Linked DNA regions of Homo sapiens: all the other regions are linked to region 1. The links come from fine-mapping of genetic effects on gene expression. A gene starts in region 1. Each other region holds a variant in brackets. All regions are shown on one strand. Distances are from middle to middle.

Region 1 (5,155 bases):
CAGCACTGTTGACATTTTGTTGTGGAGGATGTCCCGTGCATTGCAGATGTTTAACAGCATCTCTAGCCTCTACTCACTAGATGCCAGTAGGACACTTGCCCTTCCTCTTTGGCTGTGGCAAAAAAAATGTCAAGAACCACTGGTCTAGATCTAAAGTTAGATCCCAACATGTTCCAGGGTATAATAAAAGATCTGACCTGGGAGAAGGGTTTCATACCAAAAAAGTGCAAGATTTTGCTTATTTATATTGGCAGAAGACTATAGAAAATGATAATGAATTCCAAGTGTGGCAGACCAGGGATGAAGGAATATTTTTGATGAGACCAAGATATTAATATGAATACATTTACCAGAGACCATAATTCACTGTTCTTGCTTTGAACATCTAGGAGTGGCTGTCAAGGTTTGCTCAGTTGGTTGATTGAAACTAAATAAAGTTGAGATGTTAGAAATCTCTTGATTTTAGAGGATTGAATTAAAAGACTTAGGGAAAGGGGTAACGAAGAGAGGTTGATTAATGAGTGCAGACATACAGTTAGATAGAAGAAATAAGACCCAGTGTTTGACAGATAAGTAGGGTGACTATAGTTAACTATAATCTATTGTATATTTCAAAATAACTAGAAGAGAACAATTTGAATGTTCATAGCATAAAGATAAATATTTAAGGTGATGGATATCCTGACTATCTTGATTTGATCTTTACACATTACACATTCATATAAATGTATCCAATTATCACATGTACCCTGAAAATATGTACATCTAGTATGTATCAATTTTTAAAGAAGACTTAGGGAATAGTACTGTATGAATGGATTTATCATATGTTACCCAGTCATCTCCTTTCAAAGGTGTTCTGAGAGGGCCAAAGGACCTTCTTTTTACTAAAGCATTGAGAAAATATAGGGAATGCCAGAATCCTTTAAAAGCTCTGTAGCTGCTATTCTATAAGCCTGGGGATAAAGATGCTGCCATTGCATGAAATCCCTAATTCCCTAATGGAAATAGTAAGATCCCAAAGTGATAGAGGCCAAGTGATACCACTGAGCCATCAGAGATGAGATATCTGTTGATACCATGATACCAGCAGGGTGTATCATATTGTTTGACTAAGGGGGATCTTTAGGAGTTGATAATTAATCACTGCCCCTATAATTGAAATGGATAGTCTGCTAAGATTCTACTTAATTTGTACAGCAAAAAATTTACCAGAACTAATGAAGAGACCTGAATGTCATAACCTTAAAGGAGATTTACAGCATCTTGACATTGGCTTTTTGACTCATGGCTATTATAATAGGAAGACAAAGTGGAAGCCTTTGGAACTGCCCTTATCTACTAAAAGATTAAACCAAAGGCAATACCATAGTCCTAGGGGAATTCCAGTGATTAGTGGCACTATTAAAGAGTGCAAAGATGTAAAGGTGGTGATTCTCCATCACACTTTCATTTAACCTTCTGTTTGTCCTCTGCAAACAGGTTATCTAAAATGTTGCTTTTTAATTTTGAAGTATTATTTGTATTCAAGTATCTTTATTCTATTTCATTGCCTGCTATTTTTACATTCTAGTCCCCATTTGTTGCCATGAAGATAGAAATCACAATTTCTACCCAACACTGTAGTGTTGCATCCTGCACACAAACGTACTTTAGTGAGCTCATATGTTTATGTTTATGTATCATCTATGGCTTTTCTTGGTAAGACAATGGCAGAGTTAAATAGTATCACAGAGACCATATGACCTGCAAAACCTATTAATAAAATATTATCTGGCTGTATGAGCACATTTTCATACTGCTATAAAGAATTGCCTGAGACTGGGTAATTTATAAAGGAAAGGGGTTTAATTGACTCACAGTTCAGCGTCGCTGGGGAGGCCTCAGGAAACTTACAATCATGACGGAAGGTGAAGGGGAAGCAGGACACCTTCTTCGTTAAGGAGAAGTGCCCAGTGGAGGGGAAAGAGCCCCTTACAAAACCATCAGATAGCTTGAGAACTCACTAGCATGGGGGTAAACGGCCCCCATGATTCCATTACCTTCATCTGGTCTCTCTCTTGACACGTGGGGATTATGGAACTGCCCCCATGATTCAATTACCTTCACCTGGTTTCTCTCTTGACACGTGGGGATTATGGGGATTACAATTCAAGATGGGATGTGGTCGGGGACTCAGAGCCTAACCATATCACTGGCCCTTTACTAAAAAATTTACTAATTCTGTCTCCCGCTTTAAATTATGAAAGGGACAATTACAGTACTGGTGGAAAAACATTGCTGGAGTGCTTTAGTGAAACCAATTATTTAGGTAGCAGCATGCCACGGTTATGGCTTAGTTGACAGTTACTCTACTTGTGAACTTCATAGGTTGGTGTACGATTCTTAACATGAATATTAAGTAGAGGCATTGAATGAAGATATTTTTCCAATTAAAATCTTGCTTTGCTTCTTCAGGACTTTATAAACCAGACCAGCTGGCTGTGGCACAGATACGAAAGACTTTGAGACCCTGAAGGCACCTTGCAGAACATCCTCAGGCTTCCTCATTTAACAGGAAAAAACCTGAGGCCCAGGGAGGCATCTCAGCTAAAAATACTACTATACATTTAAAAGGAGGTTTCTTCCGGTCGCAGTTGCCTTCACGTTTTCAAATCTTCTCTTTAAAAAGCAAAAGCAGGGCACAACCAGGCCAAGCGCCAGAAAACTCGGAATTGGCTTTATTTCCTTTTTTTCTAGTTGGGCTCGGTTATGATTTTCGGTAACGTACACAAATGCTGTCCTTGTCCATAAACAAACGCTTAAAAAAAAATGTTTACCCGAGAAACAAGGATAGACACGAAGCTGCCCTCCCTGCCCCGTTCCTCACCCTCTCCAATAGCTATAGGCGCTGCCCGCCGTCCCTAACCCGGACCAATCGGCAGCCTGCTGCGGGCCTGACGGGAGGGGTGGGGCCGCCGTTGCCAGAGAAGCCACTAGCCGGTTACTAGCTGCGCTTTTGTTCCACTTGAGCGGGCACTCTTCTGCGGCAAGCAGGTCTAGGAATTCGCCTGGTTCCCACCTCGCGTCCCTTGCCTTCCTTCCTAGTCTACCCACTGTAGTGCCCCCTGCGTCCCGCTCCCTCCTAGCCGACTCAGAGCACAAGAAGGATTGCCACGGTTTCCATTGCAGCAGCCGTGGCGCCTCTGACCCTTTTTTTATATCGCGGCGACGGCGGGCTGTCGTCACGACGACGTGCGGACGCAGCGGCGGGGGCGTAAGTACGCCTTTTGGGTTGGGGGCGACTTTGTGGGGAGCCTAGCTGCTGCTGGGCGTTTACCGCGGGAGCCCTTAGCGGTCTGGAGGTGAGGGCAGTGGTGGGTCCCGGAAGTAAAAGGCCCTCGCGCCCACCCAGCCCCCTCCGCGCAAACCCTCCACCTCCCTCAGGCTGACTACCTGGCCTGGGAAAAGGGCGGCGAGACTCACTCTTAGGAAGGGTGTGGTCCCCGGGACATCAGGGCAAATGTTAGCGTGAGGTGGGCTTGTGCAGAACGAAGTCCTGACCGGGCCGTTCCTGGATATGGTTGCATTTCTTTCAGAAATAGTGACCTCTTAATCATTGGGCTGGTTTTTAATCGCCCATCATGTGATATATCAGATTGTAGGAAGCCCTGGGGGCTTCGTAAGTGAGGTATATTACAGGAATCCTCAGGAAATAATTCCTTCTCCAGGATTCCTCTAGGTTCCAGCCCCTATAGGCGACCCCTGTAGTGCGGGATTGACCTAGGGTCGTGGAGAGTGCTAAAGGCCGACTTGTGTTCAGTCCCAGCTCTGCCACTGAACCCGCTGTGTGGCCTTGTCTAGGTCACTGAACCTTCCTGGATTCCTTACTGATAACTGTAACAGTAATCATCACTTTGGGGTGGTTGTAATACGAGATTAAGTAAACGCAGGGCCATTAAGGTGGCACCGAATGTAGGTGGTTAGTGAGTGGTGGTGCTTGTTGTTTACTGAGAATAACCATACTGGGGCTGCTGTTGGGGATAAAATCTATTTCGAAGACAGTTTCCTCATCACGCAACGCATAGTACGGTTTCAAGTGTTTTTGAATGAATGAGGTTCTTGGAGTTTTAAGTGCAACTGAGTTAAGGTTAAAGAAACAAACCGGGCCGGGCGCGGTGGCTCACGCCTGTAATCCCAGCACTTTGGGAGGCCGAGGCGGGCGGATCACGAGGTTAGGAGATCGAGACCATCCTGGCCAACACGGTGAAACCCCGTCTCTACTAAAACAAATACAAAAAGTTATCCGGGCGTGGTGGCGGGCGCCCGTAGTCCCAGCTACTCGGGAGGCTGAGGCAGGAGAATGGCGTGAACCCAGGAGGCGGAGCTTGCCGTGAGCCGAGATCGCGCCACTGCACTCCAGCCTGGGCGACAGCGCGAGACTCTGTCTCAAAAAAAAAAAAAAAAAAGGAAAAAGAAACAAACTGCAGAAAACCTGTCTGCTTTTGAAATTAGTTTGATATTCTGCTTATAGTAAGAATGTCATGATCATGTTTATGATTTGCTTTTTGCTTCTCTTTTTCATCTTCTTATTTCACAATGGATGTGTATTTATAGTGTAGTTTTTCTATCCCAAAAGTTCCTTGTGACAAACTTTAGAACAATGGAATTTAGTGATCTGGTCGCGGTCTGCTCTCTCTCTTTAGAATTGTAGTCTGTGCTTTTAGCTAGCTCATTCATCACTCATTTCCTTGTCCAGAACAGTTTTCATCTTTTGAATCTAAATTGAACTTATGAGTATTAAAACCTGACTGAATAAAGGCAAGTTTGTGTGTTACTTTTTGCTTTGTAGATTTTTATATTTATGTTTTAGTATCTCATGGCTTTTTTTTTTTTTTGAGATGGAGTCTCGCTCTGCCGCAGTGGAGTGCAGTGGCGCGATCTCGGCTCACTGCAACGTCCGCCTCCCGGGTTCAAGTGATTCTCCTGCCTCAGCCTCTCGAGTAGCTGGGACTACAGGTGCCCACCACCACGCCTAGCTAATTTTTGTATTTTTAGTAGAGATGCGGTTTCACCATCTCATGGCTTTTAATTCAAAACTGAGTTCCACCAATTCCTTACTTGTAATCTTGGACAAGCTATTTAACCCTTCTAAGATTTAATTTACTTATTTATA
Region 2 (5,155 bases), 34 kb before region 1:
GCATGGAATATTGACAAGGTTGGGTTTCTGCAAAGCAGAGTTGGTTGACTTCTCCTGGTGATACCTTACTGTTAAGTTCTAGACTATTCAAAACAAAGGAAAGAGATTGAGGAAAGGCATTTCAAATACAGAGTGGTCTGCTACTTCAAACGAGAGAATTATAACCATTTGTTATATCACTCTCATTAACCCAATGTAATTTCTTATGAAAGAATACAAGAACACCACCATAAGAACAGTTTATTTTGTGGTCCCCAGAGTCCCTTTGTTAAACCTCCCAGGAAAGCAAATAGTCACTTTCCTGAAGGTATCATTTGGGTAATTATCTTGGGGGTTCCAATTTTTAAATCTGTAGATAAAAACTAGATGAACTCTAGGGTCCCCCAAGTTCTAAAGTATAGTGCATCTTAATTATCTTATAATTTAAATACTTGAAACATGGGAAGAGAAGGAATCCTGCAAGAGTGTGTCATTCCAAGGGCATACTTACAGAAGATAAACTTTGCATGAACATTATTGATGCAGTTGCATTTTGGGTGCTATTGTAGATAAAGGTGCATCCTTCTTTAAAAAGCTTACTAATAATACAGTTTTCTTGGGGGCAAGGACCTTTTTCACACACAAAAATGCCTGTGATGTCAGATGAACACCTAAAAATGGAAAGAGAAACTGGGAATTAGGTCTATTTTAGAAACACTTATGTTTCTTGTTGACTAGCTTATATAATTATTACAAGGATTGTAGCCTGCTAGATATATACAAAACTTTAAAAACTGCTCTACTGGCGGGGTGCTGTGGCTCACACCTGTAATCCCATTACTTTGGGAGGCTGAGGCTGGTGGATCACCTGAGGTCAAGAGTTTAAGACCAGCCTAGCCAACATGGTGAAACCCTGTCTCTACTAAAAATACAAAAATTAGCCAGGCGTGGTGTTGGGCACCTGTAATCCTAGCTACTGAGGAGGCTGACGCAGGAGAATTGCTTGAACCCAGGTGGCAGAAGTTTCAGTGAGCCGAAATCGTGCCATTGCACTCCAGCCTGGGCGACAGGAGCGAAACTCCGTCTCAAAAAACAAACAAAAAAACAAACAAACAACAAAAACAAACAAAAAACTGCTTCATTAAGAAAGTTCACTGATTTAGAAATGCACTCTATTTTATTTTAAAGCATTTTATCTTGATGGAGGGGTTCTGTATTAACAAGGGCTTTAACAACTAAATAGGGTCAAAGCAAAAGATACTAGGAAATCCAGATGGACTTTGGGAAGCCCAAGGAAGGACATGAGTGGCAAGATCCTGGGTCAGTGCTCCTTTGAGTTCATTTCCACTTGGTATCAGGGGAAAAAAAGATAATGAACATGTAATGATGATATTTAACAGGATTCTTTCCTAAACAAGCGATCTCAAATGTTGTTGATAGGAATGTAAAACAGTGGCAATTGTAGGAGAAGAATCAGTCAATAGCTACCAAAATCACCCTTTGACTCAGTAATTGTTGGAAGAATTTGATATGTTAATCTGTCTGCACGTATGAGAAATGACACATGTGTAATGCTATGAACTGCGTGTTACTGATAATACAAAAGATGGGAAACAACCTGTGTGTCCACCAAGAGGAGACTGGTTGAATAAATTATGGTATAGTCACATAATGGAACACTATGCAATTATAAAACACAGAGCGAGGAAAAACATATGTTTCTATTCATTTGAATTTGCCTGAAGAAATATTGAAAAAATAAACAAGAAACTAATCAAAGTGGTTACTTAGAGGGCATGAGGGGAAACAGTGAAGATAGTGCTGCAAGCAAGACAGGTACAAGCATGACTTTTTATATTGTTTTGATATTTGAACCACATAAATACCAATTTAAAGAAAAATGTCATATAACTTAAGAACTGAAAAGTGAAAGGATCTCTTTCTTATCAGCTAAGTTTTAGCTGCAATTAAATTAATTGCTTAAATTAGGCAATTATTTAATTGCTTAAGTTATAAGCAATTTTAGAGTCAAATAAATAATGAATTATAACATGAAAAAAAGTACTAACCTTGTCACTTTAATTTGATTTTGCCCATTTATGTAGAAAGGTTTGTCATTGTTATACTCATCGAACACACCCCAACGGAGGTGGGCCCATTCATGGACAAACACTCGGCCTGCGGAAGAAAGAACTTTTGCTTTTGAGCTTCTAAAATCTCAGCAATGTGCCTTGCTAACTAGTGAAGACGTAACATTTCTTGACCACACATACTCTTTGGAATGACCAAAGAGTTTAAGTTACTTCCCTCTCTCCCCTTTTCCTCTCCCCTATCCTATTCCCATCTCCTCCTACTCCACCACCTACCACCATAAAAAAGGCAGCATGAAAATATGTTTGGTCTTGTAAATGCAGTAATTTACTTGTTGCACATCTATTTGAAGCTAGTGAGTAGTCCCACATCCTCTCATCTCCCCAGTGAAGCTGCCCAACAGGTTTCTATTCAGCTTTGTAGAGGCCTCTAAGTTCAGGGTTTGGAGAAAGGGAAAGAAGCATATCCAGATAGGCAAATAAAGCTTTCCTAATCTTCTGTCTGAGCTATCCAAGCAGACCTGCTTTTTTTCTTGCAGGTAATTCTTCTATCTAGAGCAATAGTTGAAACCTAGGAGCTAGGGAAGGAGGAAGGAGCAAAAAAGGAGACTGCAGAATGTTCTCCCCAGCCTGGATGGTCCCTTCTCTTTTATTTTATCCCTTATTCTCCATGTTTATG[T/C]GTATTTTACAGCTCCTAGGTCAGGGAAACCCCCATCCTCTGCATGAGATCCTTTAGAACTTCCTCTCTCTCAAAATCTTACATTCCCTTCAAAGTTCAGACCACAGCTTTCCCATATAAGCTTTCCAGATGAACTCCCCTCCCAAAGCACACATTTCTTTTTTCTGAATTATTTTAAGTTCCGGGAACTCAGGAAGTGTGTGCTGAGTTGACTCAGGCTGTGGCATATTGTGTAATTTTTGGACCTCGAGGCAAAGGAAGGGAGGGTAGCAGTCCAAGCTGTGAGTGTTGAGGGAAAGATTGTGCCTACTCATGAAATTTAGAAGTGCTGATGAAATCATGCTTGAGCAGAGATTATCAGCATCTCAAGGTTACCAGGAAAGAAAAAAAACTACGTTTTTCTAAAGATTTATAAAGTGTTTTGTAAAGTGTATTTTATGGAGTGTTTCACTCCACTTCCTGCTAACTATACAGAGGATAACAAAATCCTTGTTAACAAAACCCTAGTTTAGATTTAACTAGGGATAAAAAAGAAAATTAAGACATCACTTGAAAGGCACTACTGTTACATTAAATCAAAAACAAAAAATAAAGATTGGGATAGATAGTCCTTGACTGGCGAACTGTGCTTACTATTTTCTCCCTCAGATCTCACTCACTAAATACCAGTCTCTAGGCCTATGACCCTGACTTCTCTCCCAAACTCCAGCCATCAATATCTAACCACAGGCTGAACCACTTTCCCTGGCATAGTCTATTGCTCTTCACAATGAATTTGCCTAGATCCAGACTTGTGGGATTTCTTCTTGAAGCTGGTTTTTTCCATGTCTGACAAAAACCTGGTGTGTGCCTTGTTCCTTAATGCTGTCTCCACGTGCCTCTTGCCTTTCCTTCTGCAGCAGTTCAGACCTCTTTTTGTTTTTTATCTCTGGAGTATTTCTCATCGCTTAGAGTTGCTAGAATTAAGTACGATAACATTTGAAAAGGAAACCACAGAGCGGCTAGCGCATAGGAAATCCTCAGTGTCCTTATTACTATCCTTCCCATCTCACTGTCTCCACCCATTTTTAAGTCTTGTGGCCTCATACCTCGACTTCTCCCAGTTATTCTCCTGATATCCAGTTTCTCCTTCATTGATCAGAGGAAGCCAGATTAATCTTAAAACACTGCTTTGATGGAGTCACTCCTGTGCTTAGAAACCTTGAGTGGTGACTTGAAAATGTGGCCATTTTAGTGCATCACCTGGCCCTCATGTATGTTTCAACGTTTTCTCCCACTGCCCACAGTCTCCCTGCACCATCATCAGGGTCTCTGTCTCTCCTATATGCCTTTAATTTTTCTGCTGCCACAGTTTTCTTCATAGTCTTCCCACTATTTTCTCCCTTCTTTCCATTTATCAAAATGATGTTCAATCTTGAAGACCTTTTCCTTTGTGAGGACATTTCTGACCACCCTTGACTCTAAATGACGTTTCCTTGATTGAATTCTTATAGCACTCCTCTCTGGGCCACTAATCTGGTGCTAAACTCTTTCGAGTTCACTTTAGCCCCTCATCTTTGCATGGGCATATGACCTATCTCCCCCTTTGAGTGGTAAGTCCTTGACAAGTTTCAGGTTTTGTGAGTGAGTCCCTTTCAGCACCAAGCACAGAATATTATAAGTAGTATTGTCCAATGGCTATTGTTTTATTGGTCCCACTTACCTCGTGATCCGTAGCCAGCTGTTAAGTTATCATTCAGTAGGAAATTAGGTGTGAAATGAATGTATTTTCCCTCTTTTCCACACCCTCTGTATTGTAGGGTGTATGGATCATCTCCATGTGCCCCATACCAGTCAGTCACTATGACATTTGCCTAAATTAAAAGAAATGCCTTGTAATACTTTCTCAGCTCTGTTGTTGGTGACATAAATGTATACATTCATTAAAGCACTTTGAACTGTACACTTAAGATGTGTGCATTTTATTGTATGTAATTATAACCCAATTTAAAAACAAAATTGAAGAAAAACACCTTGTGGATGGAGTTTAAAATGCACCCACAGCTACATATCAATAAAATCACTTGGGATTTCCAAAAAGGTCTATGTTATGAAAGCTTAGCAAATTTTTATGGAACCTAATTACTTCCATTTGATCTTTCCACATTCCAGATTAAAATATTCTCAAAAGTCAATCCTGTAAAAGTCTGATATAACAAAACACTATAAAATGCAATTAAAATATTTGAAGAAATTCTAAAAGCATTTATACATCGTTCAGAACCATTCAGAAGGCTGTAAAATGTTACAGCCTTTTGTGAACAACTTTCTGTGGGTTATTTTATTGGTGTAAGACAATAGAACATTATTTCTTTGAAAATTTGTCCTTTCTTTCCTGTAACCAATTAGATCAGCAAAACGATCATTC
Region 3 (5,155 bases), 140 kb after region 1:
TGGGGAAGCAGAGAGATGTTTTGTAAATTATGAGAATATGATTTACATCATTTACAGCTGACTTTTATTGGGCACTTGTTAGATGCTAGGCACCTTGGCCAGATATTTTATGTAATTATCTCATTTAATCTTAACAACCCTCGAGGTAGGCACTATTATTATATCTTCATTATGGATGGAAACTGGTGTTCAGAGAAGTTAAATTTTGCCCAAGGTAACCTAGAAGTTACGTGGAAGCCGGGATTCTAACCCAGGGCAATCTGACTTAAAGCCTGTACCATGAACCATTAACAGCTGTGTTACGCTTCCTCCATGGGGATTAATTAAGAAAACGTGTGTGTTTTAAAAACAGCAAGTGCTGTAGAAGTGCTAGTGATGGGCTCTGGAGTCAGAAAAGCAGACCCATCCCACTTCTTAATGGCTCTGAATGTTAGATTTTTCAATAAGATACTTGTATCCCAGCCTCTTACTCACAATATTGGAGATCCACGTTGGAGACCAAAGACTAGCCCATCTTTGGTCATCATGGTGACAGCCTTTTCTTTTAATGCTCATCTGTAACAGGTATTTCACTGTCCTTGAGCCTGATTTGGATGGAGTCTTTTCATCATAAGCATTTTTTTTTGCTTGCTAACCTCAAATTACACTTTTACTCTGGGATTATCAGCCTGTAAATAATGCTATCAGGTAGGAGAAAGGTAAGAAAATGTAAATAGTTTGATTCAGTTCATTCCCACTCTTGGAAAAACAGATGTGTGCCTGCCCTCCAGTTAATGGAAAGGTAGCATCGTATCTATAAACAAAGACTCTCTTTGACATGAAAAGGAAAACTTAAATGGAGAGAAGTATCATTTATCTATCTAGAACATTTTCTCCTAGCCAAAAACAGATTAGGCAGTGGATCTAACCAGCACACCTCTCTAATCTGACAGATTCCTGCCACATGGGGATGCTTTAGTGCAAATGTTCCATAGTCCCTGAATTTATTCATATGGTGCATCTCCCTATGTCATGCTTATTCAATGAATGCTCAGTGAAGTCTACACTCTGCACCATGGGCTGTGCTGTTCAGATGATAAAGAGTCTCTGTTACAGAAGGGGCCGTAATATAGTGGGGAAATATAGTATAAACAAAAATCATAATAGAATACGAAATATGCTATGTGAAAAATTTTGAGTAAAGTTCTAAGATGATGCAGGAAGGGGAACCTGTAAATTGCCTCTAACTCACAGAAAATAGGCTAGAGTGAAAGTAGCTTGTCTTTGTGCTAGTCTCACAGCAGACTTGAGAGAAGCAGGTGGTAGACAATTTTGATTCTTCATTTCTGATTCATTTCTCATTCTCAGCAGCAAATTAGGGCATGTTGAAGACTAGAGAAATAGATATTTAAGTACAATTCAATATTTTTACCTATCTTAATTTGGTGAATGATAACTTCACCAAATTAAGTCACAGAACCCATCCCAGGTACTGTGACATGATGGGAAATATCTGCATTCCATCTTACAGGCGGTACCAAATCCAGCACAGGGCAAATTCAACAGCTTTAGTACCACATGGCACTGCATATCCAAATAAAGAGATCTAACTAATGAGAGACTGTATTTTATAAAGAATTATTTGTGAGACACATTTGGATGTCATGAATATAGCTTGTACTTGTGAGTTGCTTCTGTCCCTTAGTAGCTATGTGAGAGTCTGACAAGTTGCTTTGCTGAGCCTCAGTTCTCCTGCATATAACAAGGATAATAAAAGCCATTTAAATGCATGTGTATATATGGCTTTTAATAAACAGCATTGAAAAATGCTATATATCTATATATAGCATTTTAATATATAGCATATATACATAACATTTTTTCAAGCTTCAAAATGTTATAAAACAATGATTAATATTGAAAGCTCTGTTTAGGTAGTTATCACTATGTGCACTCCCAAGAGCCTCTTGTATGCAAAATCCCACTAAGGAGATGGATAGAGGACAGGTTAGTCCCTTGAAGATATTTTGGGAAAATAGTACAATACAGATACTCTTGAAATGTGAGCTCCTCTATGTCCATATCACATTTTCAGCAGTTTCCTGAAGAGCAGTTCCTGACAATGCTCCCACAGTCATGACCTGTGTTATTAGAATAATAATCTTTGAAAAAAGATGTTTATGAACATAACCAAAAATAATCATAATTTCTCCATGTAGTAACATATGGCTAAAGTAAATAATAATAATAATAATAATAATAATAATTTATAATTTGGACTTGTGACTTTTTTCCTAAACTTGAAAACTTTAAAAAATTATCCTCGCAAAGAATTTTTTTTTTCTTTTTGGATATAAGAACTGTGGCCCAAAATTCAATCCAAACTAAATTTCAAATGTGGAGTTATAACCCCTACCTCTGCATGGAAACCATGGAGCCCCTCAGCCAGAGTGGCAATTGGCAGTTCTACCTTGGTCTCCAAGGACACACACAGTGAGATACCAACCAAGAAAAAGAACAGGGAAAGAATACGAGGGGAAATGCTAAAACCATCTGTACAGAGTTGGGTTTTGTATGCTGCTGCTACAACAGGATTCTTCTTATCTTAACTAGAGTCCCGTCTCCTTCCCATGACTACATTTGAAAGAATAGTAAACACCTCTTGCAATACTGATTTCAGAGAGTCAGTGTGGTTTAATATAGGGGTCATTAGAGTGGGGGTGAAGAGACAGGGTTCTATCCTAGCTTCGTCATCTCGTGGCAGGCATCTTGCCCCCTCTGTGACTCAGAAGCATCATCTGTAAATGTGGATATTAACAGTTGTAACCACTTTGCAGGTCATGGTGGGAAAAACACACTGAGATGTATATAGCGTTACTTTAGGCTTTCACACTAGGACAGACGCACACTTAGCCCCTCTAGA[C/T]ACTCAGACTCTGGGGTGCTGATCAAGAAAGAACCAAACTGTCCTGGAGCCCACATCCTCCATTCCTCTTTCACTAGTCTAGAGTAGGGGAGAATTATCTCACAATGCAGGCTCTAACAGAATTCTTCCCCTGTAGTCTGTGCCCACCACCCCTGCCTCCAGATGGTCCAGACAACATTGAAAACAGTATCTACCTAGGACAGTGCCAGAAGGACCAATCACTGCCTCATTCCTGCCCATCCTTCTCCAGAAGCGGTGGTGCTAGGGCCATAGGCGTGGACCTGCAGGATGAAGGCCCTTTGCCACTGCCAACCTGTGGTCTGGGTCATGGACCAGCTCCTGTACCTCTGGTTCACAGTCCCAGCGGTCACTTTTATTTTCCAACAACAGCTAAGATTGTTGTTTTTGGATTCCCTGTTCTCTGAAAGAGGAAAATTAATGTAAACCCTTAGACAAATATGTTCAAAAGATGATTATAATGGGTTTTAAGTAAAAACAGAATGGAAACCAAGGAATTATCTAATAATTAAAGCAAAAATTAATAAGCACCTCTTCTATCTGAATAGAGATATACATCTCTGGTTACAGTTGTGCTACAACAACACCATTGTGGTTTATTTTCCCATTAAGTGGCCATGAATATGGTCTTTTATGGGGCCTGGTTCGCTACATGGTGGTCTTACCTGAAGATAATCTTTAGCAACAAATACGCAGTGAAAAGGCCTAGATTTCTTATTATATCAACTTCTGGTCATGATTTTTTTCTTCTTACCTTTCTTCTAGAATGTGTTTATGCATAACGTGTGTATAGTCTTCAAAAGAGCCTAACATGTAACTAGTGCAGGCATAGGTACAAATAGAAACTGCCCCAGTATTTATTTGTGGATTATTTTCTACATTTTTTCCATTTCTAAATCCTCCCAAAAGACCAATTTTCTCTGGTAACAGAGAATATATTTGTCTTTAAGTTTGTAAAAGAAGCTACATAAAATTCTCCAGACACATGTTTAAAATGTGTGATCAAACTGGCATCTTTACTTGGAAATGGCCAGTGGTGGAGAATTTTTAAGTTTGTCTGATGATACCTCAAAGAGAATTTTTTTCAGTGGAACATTAGGTCCTCAATTACGAATTGTTCCCACATTTCAGACCTACCCAGTAGACCTTTCAACTTTAAGCTGTTTTTGTTACTAATGAAAAAATTCATTATTCATTTATGAAGTCTGGTTCTTCTTAGTGTTCTGACTTTAGAGAAGGATTTAATTTAGAAAGTTAACCTGTGGAATAAACTATGTCTCATGTGAACCCATTTAGAGACAGATGTGTTTCTGTAATATGTACTGTACAATCAATTTGCATTTATCCAAAAAGTTGCCATATTAAGTGGACTCAATAGGCCTACTGTTAATGCAAAATTTAAACTATGGAAAACTGGCTTTTCCAAACAATAAGAAAGAAGTTTCCCTCATAGCCTGGAGTCTTCTGCTTTGTTAATGCAAGATGTCAAGCCTGCTGCAGTTACCTGATGCAAGTGAAGATTAGAACACATCTGAAACACAGCTGAAAATTTTACAAAACTGAAGCACAGAAATAGATGGAAAAGAAAATGACGCAGGCAGGAAGGAGGAAAATAAACTCACATGCCCACAAAAATCTTAAAGGAAGGAACTGGAGGGAGTTAGTCTATTTCATATATGAGACAAAGTCAGAATTAATTTGCTTAGAAGTTGACAAACAAGACACCAAGTCATAGTCATTAGAGCCTGGATCTTGCCACCAGACAAGTAGGGGTTTAAATTCCTGCTCTTCAGATTACTAGCTGAGTGACCCTGGATTTTTGCTGGCTGGATTTTTGGCTGTTCCTTCATCTGTAAAATGGGAAAATAATTCCTACCTCAGAGAGTTATTGTGATAAGTAAATAAAAACAATTTTCATAAAGATCTAAACAGTACCTGCCACTTTATTTAGTGTTCAATAAATTGGAAGAAGTCCAGAAAATTTCAGCTTTGTCATAGCTAAGAAATATTAAATGATTTTTCTTTTACTATTTAAAAAAATAATGTTAGGGATATATAATTTATATATCCTAAAATTCACCCACTGTAAGTGTATAATTCAATGATTTTTTTTGTAAATTTATAGAGATGTACAACCATCACTGCAATCCAGATTTAAATTCAAAACATATTCATTACCACAAAAATTTCCTCGTGTCTGTTTGAAATTGATCTCTGCCTAGGTAACCACTAATC
Region 4 (5,155 bases), 70 kb after region 1:
ATTTGATCATGGGGCTGTTTCTCACGAATAGTTTAACACTGTCCCTCTAGGTGCTAGTTCTGTGATAGCAGGCGAGTTCTCGTGAGATCTCATCATTGAAAAGTGTGTGGCACCTCCCCCAACCTTGGTCCTGCTCCTGTAACATGTAAGACACCTGCTCCTGCTTTGCCTTCTGCCAGGAGTAAAAGCTCCCCTAGGCCTCCTACAAGGCAGATGCTGCCATGCTTCTTGCACAACCTGTGGAACCATAAGCCAATTAAACCTCTTTTCTTCACCCAGTCTCAGGTATTTCTTTATAGCAATGTGAGAACAGACTAATACAGTATATATAAAGTTTGGTACTGTCCTCAGTTTTGGGCATCCACTGGGGGTCTTAAAATGTATCCCTTGAGGATAAGGGTAAACTATTGTGTAGTAAAAATATGGTCTTCATAATTTCTGCTGTTGGGAATTTATTAAGTATCTTTCTCTACTCCATTATTAATTTTCTATATCTTCTTTATTGTGTCTATTTTACCTATTATAGATTAATACTGTAAATTCTCCTACAGAGAGTGTGTTTCTGCCCATTTTTCCTTATATATCTAGTATTTTTATTCTATATACTTTTGCAACCTCTAAATATTTTTTTCTTCATATTTGTATGATAAATTGTGCCAATTTCATTGTTTCTATTGTTCTTTGTTATTTTGTTTCAGTACTTTCTCCTGGAGATAAAGAACTTGATACTTTCCCATCTTTTCTTCCCAGTCTGAGATTAAAAATTCTCTATTATTTTTATAAAAATAAATATTAATATATACTTTCAAATAGTTAAAAGGATATTGAATGTTGCCAACACAAACAAATGATCAATGTTTGAGATGATCAATATGCTAATTACCCTGATCTGATCACTATATATTATATGTATGGAAATATCACTATATAACCTACGAATGTGCTAAATTATTATTAAAAATGATAATAATAAAAATTAAGGTTGTAACCATGTATAAAATAATCATTTAAATTTATAATTATATTGTTAGCTGATGTCATGTTCTTTTTGGTATCAACACTCAATTGTTATTTTTGTTTTACCTTTAATTTTTCTAGGATATGCTTTAAACATTTTATTCAGTAATTATCTGTATTTGGAATATATTTAGGGTTCTCATATTCATGATTTCCTTCTTGCCTTCATTTACATGTGGAAACCTGAGCAGAAACTTTAGTGGGAAGAAAATCTTGGAGTTACAACTGTTTCCTTCAAAGCTCTGTAGATGTTACTTCCTGTCTTCTGACACCCACGGAAGAAATGTTTGAGGCCTTCAAATTCTTTTTCTTTTGTGGGTGGCGTTAAGCGTTTATGCTGTGTTTCCCTGGATCCTTTTTTATCCCAGAGGTCCCTTTAAACATTATCGTCACTGGATCAATGTCATTAAATCATCTGACTTAAGATCCAGATATTTTACTGTCTGTCTATTCTCTCCTTGTCAAAGTAGAATTTTTGAAAGAGAAAATGTGCCTGACACCATCTTTTCTAGAATTCTGTCCAAACAGGGACATATGTGGTCAAATTTTCATTTATGTAGATAACTCTGGTGACCATGAAATATCACTATGTTGTTGGGAAGGATGAGAATGGGTGAAGAGGGAGAAGGAACACTGGAGGCTGGGAGACCCAATAGGTGACTGTGTCATAGTCTAGTAAACAACAAGGAGGGTAGCAATAGTAGGAATAGCGAAAAGGGGATAAAGTCATGAAATTTGATAACATGAAATCCACATGACTTGGTGACTCATTGGCTTTTGTTGGGAGGGATGCACAGATTGCTGATCAGGTACCAGTTAGTGCCATCAACTAAAATACACGAGGAAAAAGTGGGGTCGAGGGAGACCAATTTTGTTTCAGATTCCTTTTATTTTTTTTAATTAGGAAAAAGAAAATTATTATTTTGCTTATATTTTTGTCTGATTTTAACTTATGGGTTTGTCTAATTATTTTCCAGTGTATTTGTGTGTGTTTATTGGGGAACGAATGTGATGTTTGATTTAACAAGTCACAGAATTTTTCTGTGTTCTTTGTTACTGCATTGTTGCTCATGTGTTAATTTTATTTCCAGTGTCTATATTATTTACATAATGATGTAAATATTTATCATATTTTAAAATCATATTTAGGACAGACTCAGAACACTGTCAACCTTTGCAGTTCTAAACAAGTGCCTACACTAGTTTCTCATAATCATAATAGCTTTGAAATTAGATGAGGCTCTAAGTTAATCATACAAAAAAATTCCAAACAAACCCTAAATCATTTAAGGGATTGTAGAAAGTATTAGCCAAATTTGAAATTTATGTTATTTATTATAAATTTCTTTCATTGACAAATTAAAACATCCCCTGTAAATCGTAAGAAGGGATGCACATTTATACCAGGAACTTGACTGTTAAAAAAGCACGTTAATGTTACTTCAGAATTATTGTGAAAGAGCTAA[A/G]GAAGGCAGTATTTCCTTCCAAATACTCAAGAGTCATTGGTATTTAATGAAGAGGGATTTGTGGTTTCCTGATTTATTAGGATAGATTTTTTTCTAAAAAATCTACAGCAAAAAATAATATGTAATCTAAAAGTTTTCCAATTTGGGCTTAATAAAATCTTAGGATTGGATCTTACTGTTTTGAAACTTATTTATTCATATCACATATAAGGCTACTTTTCAAGTTTCAATAAAGGCAATTATTTTTCATGCTTTATATTTTTGTTTCTTTAGGGATTTTGATCTTATAAAGTTTTCAACTTCAGTTTATCATTAATAATTTAATTACAAAAGTAGTAATTTTTAAATTAAAAATAAATTCAAAGAATACCAAAGAATATGATGTGAAAATATTACTTCAGCTGCTTCTCATCCCAGATCCCATTGTCCAAATTAAGCACTATTCATTGTTGCTTAATCATATTGCTTAACCTTTAAAGAAGGCCTAATTCTTTAACTTTAAATAATTTAGCCCGGGGGAGAAACAGTATCTAGTTCTCTTACAAGTAACAAGAACTAAGTATCAATACCTTTAAATTTTGATAACTCACTAACCTAGAGATACTGAATAGTATTGAAAATGTTTGAACCTTTTAATTTTAGCAGCACTAAGATTGTCTTATCGTTGCTAAAATGGCCAAGTAAACTTTTTTTTCATTGTTTTGAATAAGAACATAAGCTACACTTTTAAAAACATGCTTTTCTATATTTCTAATAGATATAGCAAGTTTCACTATTCATGTCAAATCAATATATAATTTCAATATGTAATTTTAGTGATCCTAGTTCTATTTAAAAATGAAAAATATAGTTTATCAATGGTATTTTAAATGTTATTCATCTTAATATGATCCTTTGAAGGCTACACATTCCAATATCCAAGCTTTAAAGTAGTTTGTATACACCCAACATGCAAACCATGACTTTAATCATTTCCTCACCAGAACTTCAATTATGCCAAGCACTTTTTAATTATCCTGTGGCCCACAAGTCTATTCTTAGTAAAAGTCTGATTTTATGGAGGCAGTCTTCTCCTCTGTGGCAAAAATCAACTCACCACTTAGCAACTCCACCCATGAAAAAGCCCTGTGAATTAAAAGCTACTAAATTAAGTGTGTATTTTTAACAGCTTCAATTTTGAAGTCTGTTTTGGCATAAAAGTTGAAGACTTTTTTTTGAAGTACAAAAATGCTATGTTGGCATTTCCTGGTATTTTCAGAATGCAATTTGTTTTTTGGGTTGTCCCTTTTACAAAGTTAGTTTCTTATAACATCAATTTTTTTTTTCTAAGGGGAATATATGTAATCAACTTGCCCTATCACTTTGTCTTTTTTATCTTATTTTAAAAAAGCAAATTCTGAACCAAGAAGAACAATGAAATAAAAAGAATTTCTGTGTGAGGCAGGGCTGTAGGATAGGAGGAGAAGGTTTGGGGGCACAGGGGGAAGCAGAGGAATCACAGAGCTGAAGTGTAAATGGGCTCAGTGTTTCCTGCACAGATCAAAACCTGGAACAGAAATCTAGAAATTAAGAAAAAGTAAGGCACGTAGAATTATTATGCTTTTTACTATTTTCATTTCATAGTAATGGAAAATCTGTTTTTCCCAATTAATACAAACACAATACAAAGTCATTTTAGGAAATGCTTGTATAAGGCTAATGCTTATAAGATATATTAAACACTAGTATATAATACATTCATTCAAGAAATAATAAGGACCTGCTATGTACAGGGCCCTGTACTTCTCTTGTGTTACAGTATAGCTCCAATAAATGATTGTATTATGATCCACCCTCCCAAAAATGTGGTGTTCAAAAGCTGAACTTAGGAAACGTGACACATACTGTGCCCTCAGTCAACACCTGTTTTCCTTGTTTTTCCCTGCTGTCATCTATTATAGAGGTTGGAATATCTAAAAGTTCCCCAGTTTGCCTTACAAATAAAAGTTGCTTGACAAGGTTCTGGCCAATGAGATGTAAAGAGAAAGTCACTGATACCACACAGTCTCTTTCTAGTATGCTCTGGAAGTGCTGCTTCATTCACCCCAGGTGGTGGAGCTGAGAAGCCAGAAGACTCTTTGAAGGTGCTCTTGACCTACTGTACTAACTGTGGACCTCCTACTCGGGACTTCTTATGGCATAAAATATACACTCCTCTTCCTTGTTTAAATGACCATTTGCTGGGTTTCTGTTACTCTTGGCTGCATGAGTTACTGACTCAGGAAAAAAATTTGGCAATAAGCATGACAGTGGTCTTCATATTCCAAATTGTGATGAACAGTGTCTAAGACGGCCCACAATGATCCCCACCTCCTTCTCCGCCTTGTGTAGTTCCTCTTCCACTCTCTACCAGGGTCAGTTTCTGTGACCAATAGGAAGTGGCAGAAGTGAGGGTTGTTGCTTCTGAAGTTATAAAAGGTTACATATGCTGGGGTGCTCTCTCTCTGATTCTTTGCTCTGGGGAAGTCAGCTACCATGTTATGTGAGCAGCTCTATGGAAAGGTCCACATCGTACAAAACTGGAGCCTCCTGCCAACAGGAGCTTGGAAGCTGACTCTGTGGTCCCTTCAGATGATGGCCATCTCACAAGAGACCCTGAGACAAAGCCACCTAGTGGTGCCCCTTTCAGATTC

Direction of the effects. Positions count from the first base shown, and alleles are read on the strand shown. Sizes are in standard deviations (SD) of each study's normalised expression. Not every link is listed here.
As copies of C replace T in region 2, the expression in sigmoid colon of the gene that starts at base 2,966 in region 1 goes down (small effect, 0.37 SD a copy in GTEx).

The links. PIP is the estimated chance that this variant, and not a neighbour inherited with it, causes the effect.
Region 2: its variant is the best candidate, but not a certain one, in a credible set for the expression of ODF2L in sigmoid colon (GTEx, PIP 0.63).
Region 3: its variant is the best candidate, but not a certain one, in a credible set for the expression of ODF2L in whole blood (TOPMed, PIP 0.62).
Region 4: its variant is the best candidate, but not a certain one, in a credible set for the expression of ODF2L in whole blood (TOPMed, PIP 0.75).

Annotation. Positions count from the first base shown.
Region 1 is chr1:86,394,134-86,399,288 of GRCh38, reverse strand. It overlaps ODF2L (outer dense fiber of sperm tails 2 like), which reads left to right and starts at 2,966. Exons shown (of 17, transcript NM_001366781.1): 1 at 2,966-3,256. RefSeq lists an enhancer at 2,992-3,041.
Region 2 is chr1:86,427,864-86,433,018 of GRCh38, reverse strand. It overlaps CLCA2 (chloride channel accessory 2), which reads right to left. Exons shown (of 14, transcript NM_006536.7): 3 at 4,451-4,601; 4 at 2,049-2,157; 5 at 491-650. Among named protein-coding and RNA genes, the nearest start is that of CLCA2, 6.3 kb to the right of the region's middle. The variant T/C (reference allele first, on the strand shown) is at 2,749.
Region 3 is chr1:86,253,022-86,258,176 of GRCh38, reverse strand. No RefSeq gene overlaps it. Among named protein-coding and RNA genes, the nearest start is that of LINC02795, 64 kb to the left of the region's middle. The variant C/T (reference allele first, on the strand shown) is at 2,903.
Region 4 is chr1:86,324,026-86,329,180 of GRCh38, reverse strand. The region is part of intron 2 of LOC105378825 (a long non-coding RNA gene); the gene reads left to right. Among named protein-coding and RNA genes, the nearest start is that of LINC02795, 7.0 kb to the right of the region's middle. The variant A/G (reference allele first, on the strand shown) is at 2,484.